Homo sapiens: one gene and its partner. The protein of the gene in region 2 purifies or fractionates together with the protein of the main gene of each other region. This does not show direct contact. Each region holds a gene or a part of one and is shown on either strand. Other genes may lie near its edges.

Region 1 (3,500 bases), on a different chromosome or scaffold from region 2:
CAGGACCGCTGCAGTGTCCAGGCTGATGTCCTTCTGCCCACCTGGGCCTCTCCCCGTGGCTGAAGGACAGTGAGCAATGCCTGATTCGCCCCCATCCTCTCTGCCCCCACGCGGAGGCTGAGCTCCCCCTTTTCCCATTCTGTCTGCTGGCACTAGCGTATTTTTGCAGAGGGAGGCCTCCACACTTCCCCACTGGCCAGGGCACACCTGCACACTCAGTCCTGAGGAAAACAGCCACATGAACAGTGATGCTAAGGCTTTACCCTCTTGGGTAGAGGCTTCAAAACTCTCCTTTATATAGAAAAAAGTTTTGTCCTCTTAGCCCTCAAAGCAGAAGATGGGGGCCTCTGGCTAGCACCTGAGTCATTCTTCAGTATCTACCTGGAGGGGGCCCCTACCTTCCCAGCTGGGATGCCCCAAAGCTTCAGAGCCCTGCCCTGCAGGGAGTAGAAACCCATAGATGCTGAGTGCCAGGGCTACTGTTCCACAGGGAGGGGCTGGGGAGGGCTGCCTGTGCTTACCCCTGATGGTTTCTCTTTTCACAGGTGTCTGAGAGACGGGGCTGGAGACGTGGCTTTTATCAGAGAGAGCACAGTGTTTGGTAAGAGCAGGGTAATGAGCCGTGGGTACTGACCCCTTTTATCTTACTTGATCATGACTCTGACCTTTGAGCTAATTAGATTCCTAAGTTCATGGCAGACCATTTTCAAGATTCCTACAGGGCACAGCTCTGATTTTATGATCTTTCATATTTTAAATGATCAGTTTTCTTCAAACCTCCTGTGCCTACTGCCTTTCTCTTCCCCTCATAGACACCCATGCCTAGGTGCTTGGCAATGCGTCCTCCAGTCCTCCAAGACACATGTGCTCATGCAGAACAGATTGTGCTGGTTTGTGTTTCCGGTTTCTGGGTTCATAGAGGTTTTAGTGAGCATTAGAAATCCTGCTACTTGGGTTTTCTGCTCAGCATTTTGTTTTAGAGGTTTATCGGTATTGTTGTATACATGTCTAGCTCAGGGGTCCTAACAGTTGAGGAGTGTTCCGTGGAATACATCCACCTTTTACTTCTCTGTCACCATAGTGATGGACAGAGGTTGTGCTCTCTTTTCCTCTACCACATGCAGCCACACGACTGATACCTTCACCTGTGTTCCTTACTTACGTGCTGGACAGCGTCCCTCCTGGACTTATAATAAAGCAGTTGATGAGTATGTAGAGGCTAAACACACTGCACCCAGGACTAGTGGACATAAGCTCACTACATTTCATGCAAGACCAATAGAGACAGGGCTACTATATTCCACCCAGGGCCACTAGAGAAAGTGACAGACACCCACATTCACTCAGGACCATCAGAGACACACCCCACATCCACCCAGGACCACCAGAGAAAGAGACAACACCCACATTCACCTAGGACCATCAGAGACAGACCCCGCATTCATCAGAGGCCACCAGAAACAGACCTCCACATGCACCCAGGGCCACCAGAGACAGACCCCACATGCACCCAGGATCACCAAGCTGCTGTCTGGAATGACACTCTGCAAGTGTTCTAATTTCCCCACAACTTCAGTTAGAAGTATTTTTGACTTTCATACTTTTTGTCCGAATGATGGTTGTAATGCAATAGATAGTTCGTTTTATTTTTAATTTTCATTTCTCTGACAGCTGGTGAGTTTGATCATTTCAACATATTTGCTAGCCGTTTGGGCTTCCCTTTCTTATTTTGTGACATTTGACTACTTTTTAAATTGAGTTTCACACCTTGTTTCTGCATGATTTTGATTCAAGGACAGAAGTTCCTTCTATCTAGGTATCAAACTATTGCTGATTTTAAACTTTAGTAAAACCTCTTCTCAGTCAAAAATCTGACAACGGTAGTCTCTGTTGATCAAAAATCCTTGATATTGATAAGGTCAAATCCACAAGCCTCACCTTGTTGGTTTGTAGTTTTGAGATATTTCAAAGATGCCCTTCTTCACACCCAAATCATAATTATTTCCTAAAATAAGATTTGAAGATCCCCTTCCTCATCTATTTATATGTGCTCTACCTAGAAAGTCAGATATAGATTTGGCTTTAGCATTTTATCCCCTTTACAGTGAGGCAATTTACCTTACAATAAAAAAAGTATATTTTTTCTGCCATATGTGAAGCCAATTCTACACCAAGTTTGTATATATCCAAGTGGACCAGTTTCTGAGCTATTTTATTTCATTGGTGTATTTGCATTTTTTCTGCTTTTGTTACTGTGGCTTACCAATGGGTCTTACTATCTGGTGGAGAGAAAGAGAGAGAGCCAGTGAGAGGAAGAGAGAGAGAATGAGAGAGAGCTCCCTCTCCCCTCTCACTTTATTATTCCTTTTCAAATATACTCAGCTAAAACTTCAGAATTATTTTGTTGAATTTCTGGAAAAAATCATACTTTAATTTTGATTCGAATTGTACTGAATTTAAATTGTTCCATGAAAAATCAGCATATTTATAACATTAAGTTGTCCAGTCCATGGTGATGCTAAATCTCCCCCATTTGATCACACCTCTTTTTAGTTTCTTTGATAGAACTAAAATTTTTCCTTTGTGGGTCTGATGTGTCTTTGTGGGAGGCTAATTATTAGCTACTTAATGGTTTTAGTTGCTATTGTAACATCTTATAGTCCATATTGGTTTCTATTTGGTTATTGTTAATGAGGATAACATCTGATTTTTGTAGGTTGCTCTTATAACTTGTTACTCCTCTGAGTAGTTTTATTAGTTTCTGTTGGTTTCATTGGTTTTTTGTAGATGACGATATCATCTTTTTAAATAAGAGTGTGTCTTTTTCCTTCCAGTGTTTATATCTCACATTTCTTTTGTAAATTGTGTGATCTGGATATCTAGAATTGTGCTGGCATTGTAACAGTGGGCATCCTTGCCTTGTTCCTGATTTTGCGGTGAATGTCTACATTTTCTTCTTTTAGTAAGGTTTTTGCTGTAGATTAATGGCATTTATCAAGCCAATAACTTATGGCCAGGCGTGGTGTCTCACCCCTGTAATCCCAGCACTTTGGGAGACTGAGGCGGGTGGATCACATGAGGTCAGGAGTTCGAGACCAGCCTGGCCAACATGGTGAAACCCCATCTCTATTAAAAATACAAAAATTAGCTGGGCCTGGTGGCGTGCGCTTGTGGTCCCAGCTACTTGGGAGGCTGAGGCAAGAGAATCTCTTGACTCCAGGAGATGGAGGATGCAGTGAGCTGAGATCGCACCACTGCATTCCAGGCTGGGCAACAGAGTGAGACTCCGTCTCAAAACAAACAAAAAAACTTTACCGATTCTATCTATTACTATTTTTCTGAGGCTGAAAAAAAAACCACACACAAATAGATGTTGAACACATAAACAATCGTTCTGCATCTATTAAGATGAAGACGATCTCATGGTTTTCTGCCATTAAATGCAGATTACTTTAGTTTTTTTGATGTTCAGCCATTCTTTTGTTAATGGAATACACTGG
Region 2 (3,282 bases):
GATGAGAAACCAGACCCCTTCCCGTGAGTCCACATGCCCCGGCTGCCCTGGGACCAGCTGCCTGGCTCCTACCTAGGTGGCTCTCCTCTCCTTTTCCTCTGCCTTGACCTCTCTGCAGCTCTGATTCTGGAAGATTCTGTCCCCTTAAAATCCATGAAGCAGCACTGGCCTGGGTCTCCCCTCACCCTTCTCATAGGCTTGGCTATTTATCCTTCATCAATTTTTCCCAACTTCAACACTTTCTCATCCCACCTGAAGATTCCCACTTTTCCCCCCCCATTCTCCTTCAGAGGTCCCATTGTCCCATCCAAACCCCCAGCCTGACCTGAGCTTCTGGCCTATCCTTTCTCTTCAGATCCAAACACACACTCTTGAGGGCTCTGTGGCAGACACAAAGAAGTGCCGCTGAGACCTCCTTCAAGAAAGGGCTTGTTTGATTGCTGACAGCCTGCAGTTGTCAGCTCCTTCAGGGTCACCCTAATTTTTCAAGCTGAAGACACACACTGAGGAGGGCCCCCCAGCCAATGATTAAGCAAGACAGTGGCTCAAGGGCCATCTCCACCCAGTGTGGAACTCCTGCAGTGGGCAACCTTTGCCTGGGAGCTCCCCCACTGGCCTGGCAGAGTCTGCATTGCAGCCTGATGGTTCCTCCTGCTCAATCCTGCTCCCCCTCTTTTCATTTCATAGGTGTCATACCCCAATAAGCCGTTCACACACCCAACTCCGACTCAGAAGAGAACTCCTCTTCTTCCTGGAAAACCCAACTGTCACCACCTCCACATCCTACCAGCATCTCGGATTTGTCACATCCAAATCCCCTACTACCACACACACACACACACACACACACACACACACACACACACCTCTCGAATGGCTGCTCCTCCTGACTTTCAGGGCTCCGATCTCCTGGTCACCCACACTTCAACCCTCTCTGCATGCTGTGAATGCCTCTCTTTCCTTATGCCCCAAACCCCTTCACTCCCATGCCATGGAGGTCTGTGAAGGACAGGGACTCCTTTGTCTCCTCACCATTTCTGCTATGATTATGTGAGTGCAGATCCTCGATCCTTCTCACCTGGATGCCTCCTGACTCTGAGGCAGGTTCCTGCTCAGAATCCATTGACAGCGTTCTCACTGTCAAAGCTGATTCAGGACAGACTCCTCACCTGGTCGTTCAAGGCTCTCAGCAATATGGGCCCAAATCACCCATTCATGAAGCCCATTCCCTTTACTCTTAACCATTATAGAACTTGCCCTATGCCTTCTGGCCTCTTTGCCTTTGCTCCTGCCATTCTTTAACCTGGAATTCTTTTTTGTCCATCTTCCACCTCTGTCTATACCTATTCCTTCTCCATTCAGGGTTCTCCTGCCCTCAAGGATGTCAGATGTGCTTCTCCCTCACCTGATCTACCTTTAGTTCCAGTCATTAGTGTAGCTGCTGTTCCTTCTGATGGTCACTGAGTACTTTTAGATATAGCCCAGGGATTCTCTCTGTAGCTTGGCCTGAAGTGCTGAACACATTGCCTTGCACCTGTAGGCTTTCAGTCCATGTGGGGTCAATAAAACCGAATTAACAGCCTCTAGACTGTTCTTCCTGTTGCCCTACCTCTGGCTGGGACCGACTCCTCTGTGCCAAAGAGGAGGTCGATTCTTCCTTTCCATCCAAATTTCTGTGGGGACACTTACAACTTTTTCCTACACAGAATGAGATATAAATAGTGATTTCTCATGTCCCTCTCATGGGAATTCAACCCACTTTCCTCTTTTGCATCCTATTGAAGAAGGAGAGTTTCCACTGTGAAAGCTGAGCCTACAAATGGGGTCATTCTTGTCACACTCAACTAAAACAGAGTCGAGAGGCCAGGGGCAAAAAGCACTCGGGGCACAAAATGTTGCTCCCAAAATGTAATTCTCTACAAATCAGGCTGCTGAAGCTGCCTGCTGCAACCTGAAACCAGCTTTATCTACAGCTTCTGACCTTGCTACAACTCTAGGATTAGTTTTACTCATGCCATCGCTCACCCATCAGAGCTCACCAGCTCCCCAAAACCTATGATCTTTCATGAAGGGCAATATGTAACATTTCTCCTTTTTATAAGCCTCTAACCTTCTCTTTGTTCTAAAGACATACTGGAGACCACCTGGTCTGTGTGTATGCCCCAAATTGCAATTCTCTCCTCCCAAATAAAACGTTTTAATTTTGAAGATTTGGCTCTATATTTTAATTGACCTCATCACCTCGTTAACGTGCCCCCCAACCCCGCACCACCCCAGTCTTACCCCTAGAGCCAGCTGCTCATAACCAATCCTGGCTGTGGAAGGCACAGTGTCCCCAGGGTGAAAAAGAAACTTCTTCAGAGAACCTCCAGCTTTCAGCAGTTGTGTCAAAGCTGACTCCTGGTGGATGTGGACGTTGACGTGGGTGGGCTGGGATGGCCTAGAGGCCATAGCAACTCCATTCACAATCACCGTGTTTTGCGTCATCCTGCCTGCCAGGGAGAAGACATATAGCAGTGAGGTCTGGGAACTAGGCGAGGGAAAAATACACAGCACAGGTGAAAGGAGAGAAATAGTGTCTTTGTCAAGATCCCAGCTGGGCACAATAGCTCACGCCTGTAATCCCAGTGCTTTGGGAGGCTGAGGTGGGTGGATTACCTGAGGTCAGGAGTTCAAGACCAGCCTGGCCAATGTGGCAAAACTCCCTCTCTACTAAAAATACAAAAATCCGCACGGTGGTGTGCACCTGTAGTCCCAGCTACTCAGGAGGCTGAGGCAGGAGAATCACTTCAACCTGGGAGGCTGAGGTTGCAGTGAGCTCAGATCTTGCCACTGCACTCCAGCCTGGGCAACAGAGTGAGACTCCATCTCAAAAAAAACAAAAACAAACAAACAAACAAACAAAAAACAGTGTCTTTGTCAAAATTCAAAGGGGCTTCCCAGTGCAGATATCAATGGCACTGGAAATCAATAGTGATTTTACACATAAAAAAGTTAAGAGATACAAAAGGGTATATATACCTTTAAAACCTTATCGCTCATCTTTTTCCCTCAACCACCTATTTGCCTTGCAGATGCAAAGTAATATTATCAGTCTCTTATAAATCCTACCATGACATTTTTGCATACAAAAGTGTGAAAAAGTATTTCTGCCCCCTTTTCCCACAAATAGCAGCATACTATACACACTGATTTGCATGATGCTGTGATCACACGATCATATGTTTTTAGAATAATCCTACATGAGTCCATAAAAAGTGTCAACCTAAATAACAGAGAGAG

What was found. The genes of interacting proteins can lie anywhere in the genome.
Region 1: the proteins of TMEM176B (region 2) and LTF purify together in Homo sapiens (affinity purification with mass spectrometry; one large-scale study listed by BioGRID and IntAct). This does not show direct contact.

The regions. Positions count from the first base shown.
Region 1 is NC_000003.12:46,451,406-46,454,905, reverse strand, and holds part of LTF (lactotransferrin isoform 1 preproprotein), read left to right. Parts: intron 1-545; coding exon 546-601; intron 602-3,500. UniProt on the Homo sapiens protein: Transferrins are iron binding transport proteins which can bind two Fe(3+) ions in association with the binding of an anion, usually bicarbonate. Lactoferricin binds to the bacterial surface and is crucial for the bactericidal functions.
Region 2 is NC_000007.14:150,794,083-150,797,364, forward strand, and holds part of TMEM176B (transmembrane protein 176B), read right to left. Parts: intron 2,493-3,282; coding exon of another isoform or gene 2,488-2,492; coding exon 2,284-2,487; intron 1-2,283. UniProt on the Homo sapiens protein: May play a role in the process of maturation of dendritic cells. Required for the development of cerebellar granule cells.